2 separate regions of the Homo sapiens genome follow, and region 2 is linked to region 1. The links come from fine-mapping of genetic effects on gene expression. A gene starts in region 1. The other region holds a variant in brackets. All regions are shown on one strand. Distances are from middle to middle. Region 1 holds the start of MXRA5 (matrix remodeling associated 5). Region 2 has its middle 31 kb from the start of SNORA48B.

Region 1 (12,491 bases):
AATATATGTAATATATATTATTATTATATATAATATATGTAATATATATTATTATTATATATAATATATATAATATATATTATTATTATATATAATATATATAATATATATTATTATTATATATAATATATATAATATATATTATTATTATATATAATATATATAATATATAATATAGTATACATATATTATATATTATATAATATGTATATTTACATTATATATTATATATATTATAAAGATAATATATATAAAATATATACATTCTGCATCAACCCCAAGCTTTTTAGAGGGCTCCACCAAGGCCTGGCTGATGGTACCCCCAGCATGGGACCTGCCAAGGTGCTGGGTTTGAGAGATGAGGTGGCTAATCCCAGCAAGTTAGACCATGTGTTAAAATGGTTCATGTATAAAAAACAATTCCTAGACAGAGCCATTTTGCACACCAAGGGTGGAGGAAAAAGAAGTTACAGTTAAAGCCCCACTTTCTGTTCTGCAAATATCACACGCACCTTCCCCCAGGATTCAAATGGGCTTTAGCAGACATGGAACCAACCCATATGCCCAAGAAAATGTGGTACATATACACCATGGAATACTATGCAGCCATAAAAAGGAAGGAAATCGTGTCCTTTCCAGAGATATAGATGAAGCTGGAAGCCATCATCCTCAGCGAACTAACAAGGGAAAGAGAAAACCAAACGCTGCATGTTCTCACTCATAAATGGGAGTTGAACATTGAGAACACATGGGCACAGGGAGGGGAACAACGCACACCAGGGCCTGCTGGGGGGTGGGGGTTGAGGGGAGGGAACATAGAGGATAGGTCAATAGGTGCAGCAAACCACCAGGGCACACATATACCTATGTAACAAACTTGTACACTCTGCACATGTATCTTGGAACTTAAAGTTAAGTAAATAAATAAATAAACAAAACTAATGGGCTTTAGCACCTCTTCCCTTTTTCTTACTTCCATTACACAAGAAATGTGTCCGATAAATTACAAGATTGTAAAAAGGGAAGCTGGCTTATGTGTTACTATTCCCTCCTCTGCCAACGCCAAGCTGTTTTCCCCAATGAGCTATCATTGTTGTGGTTGGATGTTCAGATGGTCAACTCATAAAGTCTAACAGCATTTCATTGAGAAACCTATTTAATGGTCTGTTGCCATGGGTTAGGGAAATTATCATCTTATTCCCTCAACGTTTCATTCTCTTATTCTACCACTGTCAACAGGGAAGTTTCCATCTTACTCCCTCAACACTTCATTCCCTGACTCTACCACTGTCGATAGAGAAATTTCCATCTTATTATCTCAATGTTTCATTCTCTTCTTCTACCACTGTCAATGGAGGAGAGTTTTTTCTTTTAACTTTGTTCTATAAGATGTCCAGGTACATTTACAGTTATTTTGCATTGGCTCAAATCTGGCCATTTTATTTTTACTAAAACATCTCCATGGTGGATATTTCACAAACACTAATTTAATCAGTTGTTCTGGGGATGGATGCTAAAAAGTAGCTATTATATTTTGTTGACGAACTCCAAATGATTGTTGACTATTAAAATTGCAGTTGAGCACCTGTAGTTCATAGCAACTAACACTTCGGTCCACACAACCCTCGTGTGTATAAAATGAAACCAGTATATTAAAAGTCTGTCTGGCAAGCCACATCAAAATAGGTTTTTAAAAAGACGTTGATATTTTTAACAGGCAAAATCTGCAGGAACTCTTTTATTGCCTCAAAGTCGCAATTCTATCATCTACATGACTTATAAAATGGCACAGATGTTCTGCTTATTTTTATTATTCTTAAATCGTTGCTGAAGTCTACTTAAATCATCTTCATATGTTTAAGTGTGTGTCTCATGCATTCACCTCAACAATGTATTAAAGAAATGCTATCAAGGGAATTTCTCAACAAACTCTAAAGTTGTTCATGCTGCTCGTTAATAGACCTTACAGCAGTGGCAGCTGATGGATATATTGAGATAATCATCGAAAAAGCTGCGTTTAGCATAACTAAAACTTTTTCTCTCTATTCTGCCCATCTGCAGCTCCATAATTCTCGACAGAGCTACACAGAGGAAATGCACATATGAAGTTAAGTAAATGCACATACACACACGCAAAACCAGATCAAGACGCACGCACTGACAGTGGGAAGGTTCGGGAAGAAAGTGGTACAAACCCCAAATTGATTCTTTCCACGTGTTTAGCAATGCCAGCGGGCACGGAAGCCAGGGATCGGAACGTGCAGTGGACCTCGCTGGGGACGTAGCAGGCACAAGGATGCGGGCAGGCCAGCGCCACTCGCGGATGGCCCCAAAGCAGGATCAGCACCACGGAGAGGGCCCCCCAGTGCGCGCGCTTGGGCATCTTGTCGGGGTGCCTGATTCTCGGATACCTGAGGTAGAACAACGAAGAGATGAGCTTATTCACAGGTAGCACCGACGAACTGTGGGCAATTTTTAAATTTGAATTGTGCATCAGGGTTTCAAGCTTCCCAGGACTTCACACGATGTGTTGTAGTGACGCTTAAACCATGGGAATTGAGAAAGATGAAACATGGTTTTTTTTCTAAACTTTTCACCATTCACTTTAATCATGACTATAGAATATAGTCTTGATTCTTGGCTTCGATACTATGATTTGGAAATCTATCTTGCACTCTGTAATTGCGGCTATGAAACAGAGAGAGACGAGAGAGAGAGAGAGAGAGAGAGAGAGAAGAAAGAGGTTTATATTTATGTATCCATAATTAAAAAATAATAAAATATTGTGTTTCTGCCTCCAACAAGACTGAGCCATTATATATTGCATATATTTGAATTTAAAACTTCCCAAGAAGTGTTTATTCGTATTCTTTCCTTTAATGATATTTTTCAAACCTTTAATTCTAGCTTCTTGAAGAGCTTAAAGAGGTATTTGCTAGAAGGATATTCATCCTGTTATTTCTGGGTTTATTTACTATCCTTATGTTTTTGTCTTGGAAAAGCCAGAGAGTTTTTTTGATGATATAGAGTTGCTGTTAATCGGGGAGGAAGTTTGGGGGAACCTCTGATCATTCAATAAACAGGAAGGGACTGCTTATGAAATATATTCAGGCAAACAGAAAAAAATGGAGTCACTAAAAAATGGAAAAGCTCGGGTAAAGCTAGATTGCATCAGCTACTTCATTTAGAATGGCGGTGATCATTTTCTTCTTGTCCTGGCAATGCCTATGTCATCTAACATTTTTGTCATCTCTTGAATGGCGTTCACTTAAAAATAGTGACACACATGGAAAGTAAATAGGGATACACAACAAACACGCGCCTGCCCATTCGCCCGGGTTCTGAACGAGCGCGAACTGCTGATTAAAATTCTAAAACCCAGGCCGGACTCGGTGGCTCACGTCTGTCATCCAACACTTTGGGAGGCCGAGGCGGGCGGATCACCTGAGGTCAGGAGTTCGAGACCAGCCTGACCAACATGGAAAAACCCCGTCTCTACTAAAAATACAAACAAACAAACAAACAAAACAAAATTAGCTGGGCGTGGTGGCGCATGCCTATAATCTCAGCTGCTCGGGAGGCTGAGGCAGGAGATTCGCTTGAATCCGGGAGGCAGAGGTTCCGGTGAACCGAGATCGAGCCATTGCACCCCAGCCTGGGCAACAAGAGCGAAACTCCGTCTCAAAAAATAAAAATAAAATTCTAAAATCCTTCCTATAAGAGAGGAACATCCCAAACCTGTAGCTTTTCCTGCCTTTAAGTGACCTAGAAAAGGTTATTCTCTTAAGCCCGGGGGCGCGTCTCCCTTCAGCTGCCCATAAAGAACTGATGGCGCACAGGTAGTTTTGCAAAAAAGCAAGTCCGGGCTCCGCCTCTGGGCGCTGGAACAAACCGGCTCCTGCAGCTCTGCAAAAGTCCTCGGAGTTTTCTCTCTCGCCAGAGCCCGGGCTTTCCCCGCCCCTGCCTGCGCGCCTGACCTCGGCGCTGGGCTGGTTCCAAGGGCAGCCGCGCCAGTCCCCAGCGTCCTGTGCCTGCGGGCGGACTTGGCCCGGGCGTTCCATAGGACTCTTCAGCCCCAACTCCCTGTCCGGCCTCCCACCCCGGCACCAACCTCCCGGGAGACCCAGGAAACTCGCCCCCAGACAACCCTAATCCCGGGGACTCGGGGTCGGGTCTCTCCGCCGCGGAGAAAGCGGCCTGGCGCCAGCTAGGCCGCCAGAGACGGTCTGCGAACCCCGCCGGGAAGCAGGGGTGGGGGCGTGAGGCCGTCTGCTTTCGTCTTGGCCCTGGGCAGACAACCTGGAGTGGCCGGGCGGGCAGCCCTGAGCCCCTGGCCGGCTTCCAGAGTCCGCTGGGTCGCGTCGAGCTGGCTGCGGGATGAATTACGAGCTTTCCCGGAACGCGGCTGGGGTGGCCCTGCGAGTCCCCGCCGCCCGGGACTCGGACACCAAACCCCTTTTGTCTGCGTGATGACTGTCCCGGTTTTTTTGCATGGCTCGGATCACTCTAGGCGTTGGGCTGTCCCCTTTCCAGGGAAAGCCTGGGTAAGAGTAGGAGGAAAGAGGCGGGGAAGGAGAGGGGGAAGAGAGGAGGGAGAGGAGACTTGAAGTAGCCACAGCCTGAGCAACTTGGAAAGAGGCTCCTCAAGCGTCCTTTCCCCCACCGATTGCAAGAGCAGAGTGGGCTTCACTTAGGAATTCCGTTGGCAGCTTCCTAGAAACGCGGGATGGCGGGGTTGAAGGTCTCCAGAGAGAGCCAGGGATGGGGAGCGCTTTGGGGAGAGGGAGGAAAGGAGGCATGGGATGTCTGGGCTTAATTAGACCTATTCAGTGCATCCTCCTTCAAGATCCGGCTCTCCTCCCTATCTGATCCTTAGCTACTTAAAATTGCAGGAATTCAGGTATCCTGATTTCTTAGCAACTTCAAACAGTGCTGGGGAACGGTGCAATCTGCCTGCATGCAGGCCCTTTACCCCCAGTGTTTCCCTTGGGTGTCTCAAATCCCTTCACCCCCTGCAGGCAGACACGGCAGCCCTGGGGCGCCCTGGCCACCCTGGGTCCTCACCTGTCCTTGGGAAGCCGCCGCACACGGGAGCGGTGCGCCGGGAGCATCCACCGAGCCGGGGCGCGCGAGTCACGGCCGGGAGTTTGCCGGGGCCATGCCCTTCCCGGGGCCGGGGGTGAGGCAGCTCGGCTTCCCAGCGCGGCACAGCAAGCCGGCGCCCTTTTATTCCCGGCGCTGCGAGGCTTCCCCAAGTCCACGCCTCGGCACACCCCCACCCTGCCCCACCCCGGGGAGACGGGGCGCGGGCCCGAGCCAAGGGACCCTGGCCGCGCCGCTCTGCGCTCAGCCTTCCTCTCGCGTCTTCATTGCGCCTGGGCCCGGGTGGGCATGCCTCGCCCACTCCAGCTGCAAGAACCGCAGGCGGCTCGGGGAAGGAGGGCTCTTTGTCAGAGAGAAGTCCAGGACCCCAGGAGGGAAGGGCGAGATGCAGGGAGCGCGGTGGGAGCCGCAGTAGAGTCCGCGCTTGGAGAGCGCCTAAGCAGCGCTGGGAACGTTTCCGTTCCTTTCAGGAGAGAGAGAAGGAGCAGGGTTTGCGCTTCTCCGGGCCAGACGGTGTTTTCTCGGCAGCTCTTCCCAGACCGTGTGCAAGCAGGAGCGGGCTGGCCCCGCCGGCATCCCACTAGCTGCAGGCAGGGCTGCAACGTGAGAGCCGCCGCCACGCCCTCCCGCCTCTCCAGGACTCCCCGGCGCCCGCCTCCCTCCCCTTGCCAGAGTCTTCCTGCCAGAAAGGTGGAACGGCTCCCCTCCGGCTTGGGGAGCATTCGAGGGGCAAGGCGAGGGTTGGGACGTTCGGAGAGTCTGATGGTATTGTCTGGGGAGGGGGCGGTGGGAGGGTGGGAGCGACCTGGCGACAAGGCAAAAAGTAGAGGGTGCAGAGGGTAGGTCCCTATTCCAGGAGGCAGAGGAAGAGGAGGCGGCGGCTGCCTGGCTTCCTGGATAAGTCAGACCTGGAATGGTGGGGAGAGGTCAGGCGAGTATCTTCAGTCAGCAGAGCCAACCTGGGGTAAAAACATGGAGCTCAGACAGGTGTGTAGGGCCCGGAAAGGCACCATTGCACCAGCTTGTTGTAGGGTGCACCAGCGACTGCTTTTCGCTATACCTCTGGTTAGCCGTATTCCTCTCCCTGAACCAGCATTTTGACATGTCCTTAGGGTCAGTGTTTGCCTGTTGTGTTCTTTGATCTACAAAAGACATCTGTGAGTATAAAAAAAATTTTTTTTACAAGCCCAGTGGTACCATGTACTTGTACAACGAATCCTGTCTGCTGAGATGCCCCTGAAGCAGGCTGATGGCGTGCGGCATTTATGTATGTGTGTATGTATGTATATATGTATCTATGTATTTGAGACAGAGTCTCGCTCTGTTGCCCAGGCTGGAGTGCCAGTGGTGCGATCTCGGCTTACTGTAACCTCTGCCTCCGAGGCGCAAGCGATTCTCCACCTCCGTCCCCCATGCAGCTGGTACTAGAGGCTTGCGCCACCACGCTGGGCTAATTTTTTTTTTTTGGTGCGGACAGGGTCTCACTATGTTGCTCAGGCTGGACTCGAATTCCTAGCCTCAAGTGATCCATCCACCTCGGACTCCCAAAGTGCTGGGATTACAGGCGTGAGCCACCCAGCCCAGCAGGCATGCAGCTTTTAAAAGGCAATGCATGGAGAAAGTATAATTGAGAAGTGCCTGCTCTTTAGATTCAGAAGTCCTGCCCTACGTCCAGCACTCTGTCAGGGGGCTTTCAGGAGGAAGGAAGGACTAAGCCTAAGAAACAAGTTGCTTCCCCTGCATGAAGCGTGGTTCATCTTAGCTCCTCCTAAGAAACACAGCGTCTAGGAATTCCTCACCACCTGCCTCCTGCGCCTAGGGTGGCTTCCACAGAGTTGATAGTCAGGAAATACTGGTTCATAAATGGGAATTCATTCCTTCTCTAGCTTTAGTTTTCAGTGTGTGTTGACATAGTTCCAGGGATTAGTCAAATAATGCCCTTAGGTAGCCTCTTTCTGGGCATGCCCCAAACCCATTGATTAAATCACGAAACAAAACAAAACAAAAAACAACTGTCTCTTGAACATCTCTTTACCCTTGTTAATGATGTTGCCACCCATCTCGTCAGCTAAACTAGAAACTCAAGCCATCCTTGCCTTCTGCCTCTCCTTCATGTCTTCCTCATAGTCAACTGGTTGCCAAGTTTAGATCCTGATGCCTAAGAATCTCTTGGCCCAACGTGTTCTTCTCTCCACCTCTCTCACTGCGGTTGCATGGATATGTCTTAGATTTTGACAACTTCTTCCTCCACCAACTCCTTCTCATTCATCCCTTCCAGCCCATCACTGAGACTTAGAGGGATGCCATCATCCTCAAACCCAAGGCTGAAGTTTTCCATGGGTGGCCTGTGCCATGCCCTGTGCTTCCCAGCCTGTCCCTGGGATCTTCCTTTTGGTGATAGATCTGGCTTGTCAAGAACAAGTAGCACATCCCTGATTTTTGTTGTTGTTGGTTCACGCCACTGTTTTGACAAAGTTCTCCTCAATCTCCATTGTATAGTATTTCCTTACCTCCATGCCCATTGCTAAAGTGGGCTTTTTTCCTGCATTGTGGACAATCACTCACCTTCTTTTTATGCCGTCATAGCTTCTTGACACCTGGAGTATAGCACAGAGCTTAGCATACACTAAGCGTTCAATTGAATGAATGAATGAATGAATGTGCGCATGACTGACGTTGAATTCTATTAAGAAATGTCTAGATTTGGCCAGGCGCAGTGGCTCACGCCTGTAATCCCAGCACTTTGGGAGGCCAAGGCGGGAGGATTGCTTGAGTCCAGGAGTTTGAGACCAGCCTAGGCAACCTGGCAAAACCCTATCTCTACAAAAAAAAAAAAAAAAAATTAGCCAGGCATAGTGGCATATGCCTGTAGTTCCAGCTACATACTGGGGGCTGACATGGGAGAATTGCTTGAGCCTGAGAGGCAGAGTTTGCAGTGAGCCAAGTTCGCACCACTGCACTCCAGCCACAGTGACAGAGCAAGACCCTGCCTCAAAAAAAAAAAACATTTAAAAAAGTCTGGATTTCTCTGCAGTAAGGAAATCTGTTTATACTACCTTATCCAGGGGGATTATTATTGGCACATTTAATAGATAATATCTATCAATACCTCTAAATACTTGTGTTACCTGTACAATCTGCACCCCAAAAATGATTTATCGAAGTCTAGTTAAAGGCACAGGTTTACGGAAATGAGATGGTTAACTCAAACATAATGGCTTTAATTCCTTACAAGTGTGAAGTAAATAAAATATCAAGTCAACTAATTCAATTCTGCTTTGCAAATTTCATGCATGGGATGAAGGGGAGTGAGCAGCGGAAAGAGACCGCTGAATGGGAGCAGGGTTTTAGCTTAGGGTGACAGAAACGTTTTGGAACTACATGTAGGTGATGGTTGCACAATATTGAGGATGTACGAAATGCCATGACATTGTTACTTTAACATGGTTTACTTTACGATGTGAATTTCACCTCAATAAATTATTTTTAATAACACACATACTAATAAAAATAAATGCCTAGATTAGAAAAGTCCCAGGGCGTAACTTGTACAATAAATCCACAAATAAAGCATTATGGAATCTCGTCATTCTGTACTTTTTTTAAATAAAATGCATAGTTTGCTGCATTTAGTCTTTTTTGTTTTGATGTTTGTCCTGCTAATGTTGCCTGCTTGCTTGGTGATGTGTTCCCAGAGCAGGGACCATGTTTGATTAATTGTTGAATCCCTTGAAGTGCCAAGAGAGTTCCTTAAATACAAGAGGTTTGGAGTACATGTCGGTTAAATTAAATTCATCTGCTTGCTAATAATTCCACCATGTGGAGGGTGAGGAGGGATGATCAAATGAAGGGCAGGTCAGTCCTTGTAGCTACAGAATGTACTTCAAGCAAAAGCTCAGTGATTAACAAAAGGCCGGAGCCCTCCTAATCGCCAGATGCCATGGAACCTGAAGGATTGCAGCTTGTTGCAGGATGCACCAGTGACTTTTACCAGCCACTGCTTTTCACTGTTCCTCTGGTTAGCAGCATTTCTCTTCCTGAACCAGCATTTTGACAACATGTCCTTATTATCAACATTTGCCTGTTTTGTCTTTGATCTACAAAAGACATCTGTGAATATATATATATATATATATATATATATATATATAAAATAGAGCATTCAGAAGGAAATCCAAACAGGTTTGCTAGCTCACTTCCCATCACGCAACCCTGATCCTCCATCGAGACCCCCTTTCCTCTAGAAATGTGGAGGTAGGGAAACTTGCAGCCCAGGAGACCCAGGAGGCCCTTACCACTGGGGAGCCATCATCCCTCTGCCTCCGTCATAAGATCTTTAAAATCCACTTTTCTTGCAAGGCTTTAACCAACAGCAGAGCCATAGGTGATCGAGTCAGACAGATAGTAGAGCTCAAACCACCTCCTCCTACTACTCGCTATTTCTTGGCCAGAGGGCCTAGAACACACTATTCTCCCTTCCTAAAACCAGATTTCTCAAGGGTACAATAAGGGTAATTTTACCTCTTGGAGGTGGCGTAAAGACAGAATGCAATGCTGTATAGAGAGAACTGAACATACTACCTGCACCACATCTGTAGTTAATATTTATATATAGGATCCAGCGAATCTACAGTCATTTTTTTCAGCTTTATTGCTGTGTCTTTTATCTTCCTATCCAGGTTTTACCCCAGCGCAGAGTCTCTGGAGGTGCACTGGCTGTTTTGTGTATGAACTGCAGTTCCTGGCGATTCTGATTTCAATGTGAAAGTCTAATATTCTAAAGGACTCTGTGGATCACTATGTAATTTTCTTAACAAGGGTTGTAAAAGTAACTTTCTTAGTCACATGACTGCAAACCCCACTGCTTCCCAAACTCTGTAATCACGAGAAGGGCTGACCTAGTGAATACCCTTGGATGACTGGAGGGAAAAAAAAAAATCGACACAGGAAATCTCTACTTCAAACTCATGGGCTTGCATAGCTCAGAAATCTCAGGGGCAGACTAATAGCTAGTGGGGTTGTATCTTTATTTGAGCAGAAACAGACTTTTAGGAATTTTCCATGGGAACTTGCCCTCATCTGTGTAGGGTAAACCTTCAATGAAAATACGGGCTACTGGCCACCTCAATGAAAATGAGGGGGTATTTTTGTTTTGCTTCTTATCCTCATAGCACAGTCGGTAGGAATACTCTGTTCTCTTGCATGTACTAAAATGCTTCCAAATTTTCTCAACAGCATACTTTAAAATAGAACAGCAGCGTGGAAAATAAGTAAATAAATACAAAGAACACGTCAGAGAAACCCTCTAGCTCTCCTGAGCACAGTTGAGTTATCTCTGCAGATTAGGCTGGAGAAAATTCTGCTTAGCATGGTGCATATCAACCTACAGAGAAAACACATCGTGGAGAAGTGAACTAGCCTGACCCAGCTTGGGCAGATGTGCTGATGGGGATTTCTCGGCAAAATGAAAGCTGTTTATCTACTACTGTGTCTTACCGGGACCAGCGGCACCTAGAACGGTGGAACTCACAGACACAGGCTTCTCCGCTCTGGATCCCTAAAATTTCAGTCGGTAGAAAACAGCTGCAGAAGATGAGATCATGGAAGGTTATCCCCTTCCTCCCCAACCCAGACCACACAGGCCAGTGAATTGCAGACAGGGAAAGGCAAGGGAATGTCAGCAATTATTAATGAATCCCTTCAAAGACCTCAATCCTGGATGGGTCATTCAGCAGAAATCGCAGAAATCGAGACCTAGCTCACTTTTTTGTGGGGGGATGAAGTCTCACTCTGTTGTCCAGGCTGGAGTGCAGTGATGGAATCCTGGCACGCTGCAGCCTCCACCTCCCGGGTTCAAGCGATTCTCCTGCCTCAGACTCCCGAGTAGCTGGCACTGCAGGTGCGCACCACCACGCCTTGCTAATTTTTGTATTTTTAGTAGAGATGGGGTTTCACCATGTTGGCCAGGCTGATCTCAAATTCCTGACCTCAGGTCATCCATCCATCTCGCCCTCCCAAAGTGCTGGGGTTATAGGCATGAGCCACCACACTCGGCCCATCTCACTTTTCAAAATAAAAATGGCACATTTTCAACATGAAACTATTCATTTCAGAAAGATGTTCTATAAATGATGAATACTCACGATTCTGGAGTTCACATCAAGAGGGAACCCTAATGAAAACTACGGACTTTGGGTGACTTCGATGTCTCCGTGTGAGTTCATCTGTTGTAACAAATGTCTCACTCTGCTGAGAGCTATTGATCATGGAAGAGGGGGTGTGTGTGTGTGTAGGAAAGGGATATATAAAAATTTCTGTGCCTTCTGCTCAATTTTGCAGCTCAGACTGCTCTAAAAATAAAGTCTAGTTTTAAAAATTCTATATTTAAAGAGTCAAGACTCTTTTTTTTCCTCCCATCTGTTTTGGCTTACATTTTTGCTGACTTGTCTTCTTTCAGACAAGCGGCCTCTTGGAATAAAAACCAAATGGCTTCTAGGGGATTCCACATGGAAGCTGCCCTAGAAGCTTGTGAGGAAGAAGGAAAGAATGTCACTGAAACTAGTTCTGAGCACTACTGGCTGGTGGAGACCTTGCCCTCAAGTGGCATGGTCTAGAAATCTCCTAGGGCAGCGGTCCCTGATCTTTTTGGCACCAGGGACCAATTTCATGGAAGACAGTTTTTCCGTAGAGCAGGATGGGGGTGGGACATATGGTTTTGGGATGATTCAAGCACATTACATTTATTGTGCACTTTATTTATATTATTATTCTACTGTAATATATAATGAAATAATTCTACAACTCACCATGATGTAGAATCTATGGGAGCCCCATGCTTGTTCTGTGCAGCTAGACAGTCCCATCTGGGGGTGATGGGAGAGACAGTGACAAATCATCAGGCATTAGATTCTCATAAGGAGCCTGCAGCCTAGATCCCTCGTATGTGCAGCTCACAATAGGGTTTCTGCTCCAGTAAGAATCTAATGCTGCTGCTGATCTGACAGGAGGTAGAGCTCAGGATGGGAAGCAGCTGTAAATACAGATGAAGCCTCACTCACTGGCCTGCTGCTCACCTCCTGCTGTGCAACCTGGTTTCTAACAGGCTGGTAGCAGTCCATGGCCCATGAGGTTGCAAACCCCTGTCCTACGACATTGTTCTTACATGTGGATGGATTCCAAGATCCATCTCACTTTTCAAAATAAAAATGGCAAATGGTCTCTCCTTCAGCATGAAACTATTAATTTCAGAAAGACCTCCTATAGGTGATGAATACTCAAAATTCTATAGGACACCACGTGAAGTGCTTTCCCTTTGGGTAAGATGTCTCTTTCATGAATTAGAAGAAGCCGCCTTAGTTAACAGACCCGGGGTGACTCATGGAACAAGT
Region 2 (12,491 bases), 150 kb after region 1:
CTACTTATTATTTCTGTATATGTGGTGAGAGCATTTAAAATCCACTCTCTTAGCCACTATGAAATATACATTACCTTATTATTAACTATGGTCACCATGCTGTAGAATACATCCCTAAGACTTATTCTTCCTCTCTAACTAAAACTTTGTACCCTTTGATCACCATCTTCCCGATCTCCAACCCCGAAGCCCCTGGGAACCACTGTTCTGCTGTCTGTTTCCATGAGCTCAATTTTTTAGATTCCACATATAAGTGAGATCATAGGGTGTTTTTCTGTGCCTGGCTTATTTCCCCTGGCATGATGTCCTCTGGGTTCATCCATGTTTTCTTAGTCTTAAGAGAGTACCAAGGAGACAGGATTTTTAAGAAAATAGCAGTGAGGGGAGAGGGATCAAATTGGGATTGAAAGCAATTAGTCTGAAAAAATTCCAATTGCCTCTTCCTTCCAGGGTCCATCTTACTGACCTAGCTTGAATGAGGTCTCCACCCTTTGAGGCATAAAACCAGAAAATGGTGGTGACAGCATAGTGCAGTCGTAGAGAATCCACTCTTACGTCAGCGAGATCCATTAAGGGCTAAAGAATCATTGGAGATAGGAAACTATGCAGGAAGGATTCACTGTACCTAAAACTAATTTATATTGTGTGTGAAGTGTTGGGTATCTTCAAAGGAAAATATGCAATGGTGTGAAAGGATGAATATGCAAAGCATGTTAAGAAGCAAGCCAATAAAATAAGCATGGATCCAACAACCCACATAAAAAATGGAGAATATTTCTCATTCATTGTTGCTTTCAAGGCTTGCTTCTCTACTGCCTTGAAAATCCCACAGTCAAAGTTAAATATGTTCCTGAATTTTTTGTGTAATAAAAACATAACAATTTTGCCTAAGAGCTCTGTTTTCCTAATCAATATATTATGGTTTACTTAGGCTAGCATTTGAATCATATTCACTGGGAGCACACTGCATAGTCTGTATTTTTTCCCTTCCAACAATTTGAAATTTCTGAGATTCAGCCATGACTCTGCACATAGATTTAGTTTATTCGTTTTGCCTTTGTACAATCTTTCACTATGTAACTATTTCACACTTTACAGATCCATCCCCCTGACGGTGAACATCTGAGTTGTTGCAGGGTTTTACCGTTACAAACATTTCTGCTAAGGCCATGCTTATCTATGTACAAGAGTATGCAAGAGTTCCTCTAAAGTGTATACCAGCGAGGGGAATTGGTGGGTCGTGTTCTGATTTAAAGGATGGTGCCAAAGGGATCTCCAATATGGTTGTACTGATTTATGGTCCCAGCAGCAGTGGGTGAATGTTCTCATTGTTTGACATGTACATTAGCAGACAGATTTAGCCATAATTACATGCTGCTCGCTGACACCAAACCAGTTTTTCCCTCTTTAGAGCCTGACCACATTTTCCATCTGCTCCTGGAATTCAGTGTGTGTTTGGTTGAGTTCTGGCCAAGGAAATGTGAGTATAAGCGTGTGTCCCATGGAAATCTCCCACGGGTGAGCTTCCATGAGCTTTTTCCTTGGAGTTGATAAAACTGAAACAGTGGCCAAAAAAATCAACAAACAAAAACAGGGATACCTTGCAAGGCAGGTGTTGGAGATGGCAGAGTACCAATTTGGCAATAAACCTGAGTCTCTCACTCACCACTTGGAGAAAATCTACCCAAGCAAGAACACTTGCAAAGGGCTAGTAAAGTAGGAAAAATAAACTATGATTGTGTTAAGCCAATAAAATCCTGTGCTGCCTTTTTTCTATTGGTGAGCATTACTCCGGGATTCTGAATGGGATCAACCTTGCGCATCTAAAATGACGGCGTTCTCTGGTGGCAACATGCATTTCTGATTTTCTAGTGTGATTGGCCAAATTGTCACTGGGTTACTCAGCTCTCATAGTTCCTCTGTTAGAAAGCCCTACACTTTTTGACCTTTGCTCATTGAAAGACTGTAAAAATAATTGTGAGAAAAGATGAAAATATGTGAGTATGTATACATCAATATTTGTAGACTTTTATAGTTATCATGCGTATAGAATATGGGCATACAGGCACAAATGTGTTCAGAAACATGGCAATTTTAGGAATTGTTTAATTTAAGGTTTCTTTTATTTCAGGGCTTTTAAGAATATCCACAGAGCTGCACATAATGAAGGAAGTATGTATATTTGTGCCCTGACTGTGAAGAGTGTTATACCAGTTGCACAGAAATTTGCATGGATCAGAACCTTATAAGCAAAAAAGAGCAATTCCAAATTACTTTTACTTCCTTGTCATTGAATGTTCCTGGGTGATAGCCAGAACTCTACATTAGCAAATTCTCGTATAATTTTCTGTAATAATGGAAATGTTCTATCCTGGGCTGCCAAGGTGGTAGCCTCTAGCCATTTGGGACTACTGAGCACTGAAATGCAGCTAGTGAGACCATGGAAGTGATTCTATTATTTAATTTTTAATTTTAATATTTGTGGGTACATACTAGGTGTACAGATGGAAGTGAATTCTTATTCCTATTTTATTTTAAATCCTTTAAATTTGAATGTAATTATCCACAGGCGTCTAGGGGTATGATGTTGGACAACACCCCAGATCTACAGGAACTTGCCATTGAAAAGGTCAAGCAGCAACACTTCACCTGGAGTGCAGCTAGAAATGGAATTTCCCAGGTCCTGCTCAGGACTTACTGCATCAGACTCATTCGAGAGCATGTTCAGGTTTGAGAGCGTTACATGAACCACCATTTGCATCTTGCCTTTTTCTTAGAGACAGGGTCTCACTCTGTCACCCAAGCTGCAGTTCAGTGGTGAAATCATAGCCCACTGCAGCCTCAACCTCCTGGGCTCAAGCAATCCTCCCACCTCAGCCTCCTGACTAGCTGGGACTACAGGCACACACCACCATGCCCAGCCAATTTTTGTATTTTTTTAGAAACAGGGTCTTGCTGTGTTGCCCAGGCTGGTCTCGAACCCCCGCTTCAAGTGATTCTCCTGCCTTGGCCTCCCAAAGTGCTGGGATTACAGGCATGACCATTGGCCCTGGCCTCATCTTGCTTTTTTTCTCTTTGTCAACCACTGTGAAAATCTTTCACATATTGCCTGGTTGTTCTCTTGTTGCCATTTGAGCCCATTTGTTCTCAGAAAGCAAGTGGCATTCCATCATCCCCAGGTCAAGGAGCCAAGGAAGATATTAGGTATCATCAGATGGCTGAAGCTGTTTACAGTCCAATTTGCACACCCTGTGACCAAGTTACCGTTAGGATTCTGCCATTATCTGAGAGTGTTGGACGTTGGTCGATACGCCATTTTCTCAGACCCCAGGACACTTAGAATGACTCCCAAGAATTCCTTCCCCAAATGGTTCCATGGTTCGTAGACATTGTTGTGTTTTGTAATGGAGGTGGCATATGTCAGGTTTGAGCCAGCAGACCGTGGGAACACAGAAAAGCAGCATCTGCCAGTAGGGTGAGTCCAGGGCGGGTTCTTGGAAGAGATGAGGGGATTTTGTGAGCTGAGCCTGGAAGAATGGGTACTGGCAAGGCATGCTTTCTAACACTTACAGAACATTTCCAAAACAGTGACTTGGGTGAGTCCCCATTCCTGTATATTTTATGAAGAGGCTAGACATTGAGAAATAATCGTGGAGTGAGGTGAGACGTTGTGGGTGATGACGGCATATAAATATTTGCACGTATGCATGTCTGCCTAGCTGCCACATTTGGAACATATGAGTCTTTAGAAATGTAAGTGTACGAAGAGCTGGGCATGGTGGCCCACAGCTATAATCCCAGTGCTTTGGGAGGCTAATGAGAGAGGATTGATTTAAGACAGGAGTTCAACACCAGCCTCACAACACAGTGAGAACCCCATCTCTAAAATAAACAAAATAAAATAAAATAGTCAGCGTGCTGCAACACACCCATAATCCCAGCTACTCAGGAGGCTGAGGTGGGAGGATCACTTGAGCCCAGGGAGGTCAAGGCTGAAGTGAGCTATCATGGTGCCACTGCACCCCTGCCTGGGCAACAGAGCAAAACCCCGTCTCCTAAAATAAAAACTAAAAAATTTAAGTACAAGAGCAAAGTGATTTTTGGTTGATGATAGCTGGGGGAGGTGACTTCAGGGAAAGCAAAATAAGAACGTGGTAGATCCTAAAATGTTTAAAAGCATTTCTATAGATGGGCGCATGCACAACTTGCTCTTTTCCTTGTCCTCTGAAACTCAGGGGATACTATAATCTTAAAAGTACATGGAAAAGGAAGCTTAAATGCATACACACTATCACCAATCGATCCAGCAATCTCACTCCTTAGTATGTGGTACCAAAGGAGTTGAAAATGTATGTCCACACAAACCTGTGCACACAAATGTTTATATGGCAGCTTTAGTCGCAATTATCAAAACTATTTCAACAAAATTGTATTTCCCTTTATTTAAGAAAATAGTGTTTATATTTTAGAGGAGTTTTGGGTTTACAGAAAAATTGAGAAAAAGGTACAGAGATTTCTCATATAGTCCCTGCTCCCTTACCCCAACTTCCCCCATTATCAATATCCCCACCGGAGAGGTACGTTTGTTCTAAGGAACCTACATAGACACATCATTATTGATATGGTTTGTCTCTGTGTCTCTGCCCAAACCTCATGTTGAATTGTAATCCCCAATGTTGGGGAGGGACCTGGTGGGGGGTGATTAGATTATGGGGGTGGATAAAACTTGGAGGTTACAAAGATGTGCTTCAGGCAGTGAATGGATAAATAAAGGATGATACAACCTGATCATAGAATATTATTCAGCATGTGAACCTCGAAAATTTGAGAGAGGTCTCAGTTAATTTAGAAAGTTTATTTTGCTAAGGTTGAGGACAGATCCCCGTGACACAGGCTCAGGAGGTCCTGACAACATGTGCACAAAGTGGTCGTGACATAGCTTGGTTTTCTACATTTTAGGGAGATATGAGACATCAATCAATATGCGTAAGACGCACATTGGTTCAGTCCAGAAACATGGGACAACTCGAAGCAAAGGTGGGAAGACTCCAAGCGGGTGAGGAGGCTTCCAAGTCATAGGTAGTTAAGAGACAAATGGTTGTATTCTTGTGAGTTTCTGATAGCTTCTCCAAAGGAGGCAATCAGATATGCATTTATCTCAGTAAGCGGAGGGGGCACTTTGGATAGAATAGGAGGCAGGTTGGCCCTAAGCAGTTCCCAGCTTGAATTTTACCGTTAGCTTAGTGATTTGGGGGCCCCAAGATTTCTTTCTCTTTCACAAACACTAAAATGAAATGAGCTATCAAGTCATGAAAAGTCATGGAGAAATTTTAGATGCATGGTACTAAGTGAAGGGTACCATGCATCTGAAAGGGTATCTGAAAGGCTGCATGCCGTATGATTCCAACTCTATGACATTCTGGAGAAGACAAAACTATGGAGACGGTGAAAAAGAAAATCAGTGATTGGCAGGTCTTGAGAGTGGGAGAGAGAATGCAGAGGATTTTTAGGGGAGTGAAACTACTCTGTGTGGTACTAGGATGCTGGATCCATGCCATTATACGTTTGTCCAAACCCTTAGAATGTACAACACCAAGGGTGAGCCCTATGTGAACTATGAACTCTGGTGATAATTGTATCAGTTTGTTCTCATGCTGCTATAAAGACATACCAGAGATGGCTAATTTACAGAGGAAAGAGGTTTAATTGACTCACAGTTCTGCAGGCTGTTTAGGAAGCATGGCTGGGGAGGCCTCAGGAAACTTACAATCATGGCAGAGCAGAAGGCGAATGGGGACGCAGGCACATCTTCATATAAAGGAGCAGGAGAGAGAGACTGTAGTGAGGAGGAGGTATACATTTTTCAAACAACCAGATCTCATGAGAACTCACTCACTACTACGAGAACAGCAAGGGGAAAATCCACCCCCATGATCCAATCACCTCCCATCAGGTCCCTCCCCCAACACTGGGGATTATAATTCAACATGAGATTTGGGTGTGGACACAGAGACAAACCATATCAATAATGATGTGTCCATGTTGGTTCATTACAACAAATGCACCACTCTGGTGGGGATATTGATAATGGGGGAGGTTGAGGTAGGGGAGCAGGGACTATATGCGAAATCTCTGTACCATACTCTCAATTTTGCTGTAAACCTAAAACTCCTCTAAAATATAAATTCTATTTTTAAAAAATAAAAGGTAATAAAATTTTGTTGAAAAAAATTATTCTTGGCTTGACACGGTAGCTTATGCCTGTAATCCCAGCACTTTGGGAGGCTGAGGCGGGTGGATCACCTGAGGTCAGGAGCTCGAGACCAGCCTGGTCAACATGGCGAAACCCCATCTCTACTAAAAATACAAAAATTAGCTAGGCGTGGCAGTGCATACCTGTAATCCCAGCTACTAGAGAGGCTGAGGCAAGAGAATCACTTGAACCCAGAAGACAGAGGCTGCAGTGAGCTGAGATCGTGCCACTGCACTCCAGTCTGGGTGATAGAGTGAGACTCTGTCTCAAAAAAAAGAAAAGGAAAAATCATTCTCCTGAGTTCAGAAAAGAATAGGATGAGGGGTGAGTAGGGAGGTTGTTTATATTTCCCAAATTGAAAACCACTCGATCAATATGGATGGATGAGAAACAGCATTTTCCAGACATCATTATCTACTTAGGCATCTTTGAAAATTCCGAGTGGAGCAAGGAAACAGCATGAGGATCCAGCAGAAGGAAGTGCTGGGAACAAGCTGGGCCTCTCCCATGGTTCTGGGTGGCATAGAGCTGCCGGGAGACTGGAATTTCATGGAGACTTTGCATGAAGTCTGCCTCGTTGGGTCAGGTTTGTCATCAGGGTGCAACACCTTGGGAACAGACAGCCGGGTAGAAAGTAGCAGGGCAAATCCATGAGGATGTCAGGGGCCGCAAGACAACCACGCCTAAGGAAAAACATCGCAGGAAGGTCACACTTGCTTTCATTTCTGAATCATAAATGTGCGAGATGGAGGCATATGGATGGATGAAGCAAATTAATGAAG[T/C]GTGCAGCTGTCCTGTCGGATTGCTAGGCAATAGCAACAAAACCCAGGCGGCTGTCGTGAAGAATGCAGACAGCCTGCACCACCGCCCACAGAGCTTGCTGCATGACCAAACCAATGAGACTCCCAGAACAAGCGGGAAAACATGTCCAGGGTTCTCAGAAATGCCTCGGCAGAGCTGTGCCTCCGGGGAGTTGCATTCGCCACAGAGATCCTCACCTGGCGAAAAGCGACTGCTTCCCTGCTCATTTCCAAAATGAGCACCTGTTGAGTTGTTTGAGCTGTGACGAATGCAAAAAAAAAATCTCAGGGGGAAAAAATAAAACGTTAAGGAATTTTTTTTAGTTGCATGGATTATCAGCCTCCGCCAGTCTCATGATGCTGCTGTCAGTCCGAGACCTGATGTCATAGCCTGAAAAACTCAGCTCAGCGTCTGAGGTTTCGACTCCCTTCTTAACAAAAGTCATTTGTCTTGACCTCCTAGTTAAGAAACCACAGGTATTTAGAATATTGTACAAAAAGGGACTGCCAGAAAAATCTCATACACGTGTGCAGTGGGCTTTGCTCAGATGCGGGAAATCAAAGACATGTTCAGACATGGCGCCCTCCAGTTTTGCAGTGGGCTAAATATTACAGAAATGGTTCAACTCTGTCACCGAGATCATGTGAATTAACTTTGTCCTCACCCTTTTCAACAAAGGGTGCTGGGATAATTGGCTAGCCACATGCAGGAGAATGAAACTGGATCCTCATCTCTCATCTTATACAAAAATCAGCTCAAGATGGATCAAGGGATTAAATCTAAGACCTAAAACTATAAAAATTCTAGAAGATAACATTGGAAAAACCCTTCTTGACATTGGCTTAGGCAAGGATGTCATGATCAAGAACCCAAAAGCAAATGCAATAAAGACAAAGATAAATATGTGGGACTTAATTAAACTAAAGCGCTTTTGCCTGGCAAAAGGAACAGTCAGCAAGGTAAACAGACAACCCACAGGGTGGGAGAAAACCTTCCCAATCTATACATCTAACAAAGGACTAATATCCAGAATCTACAACGAACTCAAACAAATCAGAAAGAACAAAACAAACAATCCCATCAAAAAGTGGGCTAAGGACATGAATAGACAATTCTCAAAAGAAGATATACATATGGCCAACAAACATATGAAAAAATGCTCAATATCACTAATGACCAGGGAAATGCAAATCAAAACCACAATGCAATACCACCTTACTCCTGCAAGAATGGCCATAATCAAAAACTCAAAAAACAGTAGATGTGGTGAACAGGAACACTTCTAAACTGCTGGTGGGATGTAAACTAGTACCGCCACTATGGAAAACAGTGTGGAGATTCCTTAAAGAGCTAAAAGTAGAACTACGATTTGATCCAGCAATCCCACTACTGGGTATCTACCCAGAGGAAAAGAAAATCATTATTTGAAAAAGATGCTTGCACACGCATGTTTATAGCAGCACAACTCACAATTGCAAAATCGTGGAACCAACCCAAATGCCCATCAATCAACGAGTGGATGAAGAAACCCTGGCATATATATACAGTGAAATACTACTCAGCCATAAAAAGGAATGAATTAACGGCATTTGCAGCGGCCTGGATGAGATTGGAGACTATTATTCTAAATGAAGTAACTCAGGAATGGAAAACCAAACATCGTATGTGTTTAACCAAACGTCGTATTATTCTAAGTGAAGTAATTCGGGAATGGAAAACCAATCGTCGTATTCTCACACATAAGCGGGAGCTAAGCTATGAGGATTCGAAGGCATAAGAGTGACACAATGGACTTTGGGGACTTGGGAGGAAGGCTGGAAGGGGAGCGAGGGATAAAAGACTACAAATAGGGTGCAGTGGACACTGCTTGGGTGATGGGTGCATCAAAATCTCACAAATCACCACTAAAGAACTTGCTCATGTAACCAAACACCACCTGTTCCCCAAAAATCTATGGAAATATAAAAAATAAAAAATAAAAACTCTGTCCTGGAACCAGGTTGGTTCTGGGCATTGTGTTGTGTTGTGCCGTGGCATGTTTTGCCTTGTTTGAGTGGTATCTACACAGAACCACCCAATGAGGTGTCTGGGATGGTTTGCTCTCTTGGTGATCTCGAGGTGCGGTTTCAAGTGTTTTGTTGTACTATGTGGTGTCATTGCTTGTTTTGCCTTGTGTGGGCTATGTATTAGTCAGGGTTCTCTGGAGAAACAGAACCAACAGGAGATATGTATATAAAGAGAGAAAGATTAAAATAAAGTATATTAGTTCGTTTTCATGCTGCTGATAAAGACATACCCAAGACTGGGCAATTTACAAAAGAAAGAGGTTTAAGGGACTTATAGTTCCACATGGCTGGGGAGGCCTCAGAATCATGGCAGAAGGCAAGGAGAAGCAAGAGTTCACTGCACTCCAGCCTGGGTGATAGACGGAGACCCAGTCTCATTTTCAAAAAGAAGAATCCAGTATATTATTATTACAACTCTTATTAATAGTTGCTTTGATTTTCTGCTCCTTTATCCAATGGTACCTAATTGAACAACATGCAGACCAAACACCACCAGCAGTCCACTTTCTATAAAACTTCTAACAGGGCCAGTTGCAGTGGCTCACACCTGTAATCCCAACACGTTGGGAGGCCGAGGCAGGCGGATCACAGGGTCAGGAGTTCAAGACCAGCCAGTTCAAAACCAGCCTGGCCAACACGTTGAAACCCAGTCTCTACTAAAAGTACAAAAATTAGTTGGGCATTGTGTGGGTGCCTGTAATCCCAGCTACTCAGGAGGCTGAGGCAGGAGAATTGCTTGAACCCGGGAGGTGGAGGTTGCAGTGAGCCGAGATCACACCACAGCACTCCAGCCTGAGCCAAAGAGCAAGACTCCATCTTGGGCCAGGGAGCAGGGGGTAGGCGGGGGGTACTTCTAACAGGATGTAGTATTTTCTCTTGTAGGTTGGTGCATGGTGAGAATTTATGTTGCAAAATGGGCTGTCATGTTGCTTATACAGATCAAGGGGGCCAACACCGGTAATTGTCAATTTTTGAGTGAATCACATCATGATTTTTTGTGTGTTTTTACTTTGTCCCTGGTAGATTCTGCGTGAAGAGTTTCCCGTATGTTCAGAACTACAAATGAGGTCAGAATTTTGGAATTTCAAGTTTGGCCCCATAGAGTAGATTGGGTAAGATTGGGTTTTTCACATAACACTGATTTATTTTACTGTTGATGGGGAAAGACACACATTGGACAAAACTCATTTATTCTGTATCCTTCCTTTGCCATTTGTAAGTATCCTTGAATTTTTTTTTTTTAAATTTCCTTGCCTTATCTTCCTAGGGAAAAAAAAAGGTCAGAAGATAGGTCTAATCTGCCTGGAGCCTGAAAAAACACAGATCTTTTCAGATCATTGATTTTTGTTTGTTTGTTTTTAGGTCAAGTCTCGCTCCATAGCTTAGGTTGGAATGCAGTGGTGTGATCATGGCTTACTGCAGCCTCGACTTCCCGGGCTCAAGCAATCCTCTCACCTCAGCCTCCTGAGTAGCTGGGACTGCAGATGTGCACCACCACACCCAGCTCATTTTTGTATTTTTTGGTAGAGATGAGGTCTCGCTGTGTTGCCTTATTTATTTATTTAGCCAACTATCTTCGTATTGTGTATGGTGTTTTCCTATATCTGATTCAAGAATGAATACAAAGATAGATTTTATCTGGAGATATTCTACAAAGTTTAAAACCATACAGTGAATATATTGATAATTCTTTGGTCAAAAGTGGTTCTGGGGTGTATTTCTCTATTAAATACACCTGGAGTACATTTCCTTATTAAATAAGTCTATATGAGAGGAAGGATAAGTTCAGGGGTTCTATTATACCACATGATGACTAAAATAAACAACAATGGATCACATACTTAAAAATTGCTAAAAGAGTAGATTTTAAACGTTCTCTCCACCAAAAAATGAGAAGTTGGTGAGGTGATGTTTATGTTAACTAGTGTCATTTGGCCATTTTTCAGTGGAAACACATATCAAAGCATCATGACGTTACTGAGTTCATGCGGTGGCTCACACCTCTAATCTCAGCATTTAGGAGTCCCAGGCTGGAGGATTACTTGAGGCCAGAAGTTCAGACCAGCCTGGGCAATATAGTGAGACCCCCATCTTTACAATAAATTTAAAAAATTAACCAGGCATGGTGGCGCAGGACTGTAGTCCCAGCTACTGGGAAGGCTGGGGCAGGAGGATTGCTTGAGCCCAGAAGGTCAAGGCTGCAGTGAGCTATGACGACACCACTGCACTCCAGCCTGGGTGACAGAGAGAGACCCTGTCTCAAATAAAAGCAAAAAAAAAAAAAAAAAAAAAAAAGTTGTGCCTCATAAATATACACCATTTTTATTTATCAATTAAAAAATTAATTTTTGAAAATCCCCTCCTTTTGAAAAATGAGTCTATATGAAACATCTACTATATCACAGGTACCATGATTATATCCTGTATATTAGGGACATAATATCTACTATATAATGGATGCTAAAATTATATCCCTATATACTAGGGATATGATATCTACTATATGACAGGTACCGGGATTATATTCCTGTATACTAGGGATCTAAAATCGACTCTGTGATGGGTACTGGAATAATATCCCTATACATTGGGGATATCAAATCGACTCTGGGATGGGTACTGAGATTATATCCCTATATGCTAGGAATAGAAAATCTACTATATGACAGGTACTAGGATTCTATCCCTACATGCCAAGGATATAGTATCTACTATGTGATGGATACTGTGATTATATCCCCATCTACTAGGGATAGAAAATCGACTATGCAATGGGTACTGGGATTCTATCCCTAAATACTAGGGATATAATATCTACTATGTTACAGGTACTGTGATTATATCCCTATGTGCGAGAGATGTAAAATCGACTGTGTGACGGGTACTGGGATTCTATCCTTATATGGTGGGGATAGAAAATCGACTCTATGACAGGGATTGGGATAATATGCCTATATACTGGGGACATAAAATTGACTATGTGATGGGTACTGGCATTATCTCCCTATATACTGGGGATAGAAAATCGACTGTGTCACGGGTACTAGAATTATATCCCTATATGGTAGGGATGGAAAATCCACTGTATGACAGGTACTGGGATTATATCCCTATATGCCAGGCATATAAAATCTACTACGTGATGGGCACTAGGATTATAGCCCTACATACTAGGCATATAAAATCTACTATATGACAGGTACTAGGATTATATCCCCATATACAAGGGATAGAAAATGTACTATATGATATGTACTGTGATTATTACTAGGGATACACATCCTGAAGATGTAGTTCCTGGGCTCGAGAGAAACAGCCTCAGAAACCAACAATTCACCCATGGGTGTCACAGGAGGTGTCATGAAGTACAG

Evidence for each region.
Region 2: its variant is fine-mapped to the expression of MXRA5 in lung (TOPMed, PIP 0.94).

Annotation. Positions count from the first base shown.
Region 1 is chrX:3,341,451-3,353,941 of GRCh38, forward strand. MXRA5 (matrix remodeling associated 5) reads right to left here and starts at 5,202. Exons shown (of 7, transcript NM_015419.4): 1 at 5,065-5,202; 2 at 2,196-2,411. The coding sequence starts at 2,383.
Region 2 is chrX:3,494,912-3,507,402 of GRCh38, forward strand. No RefSeq gene overlaps it. Among named protein-coding and RNA genes, the nearest start is that of SNORA48B, 31 kb to the right of the region's middle. The variant T/C (reference allele first, on the strand shown) is at 7,036.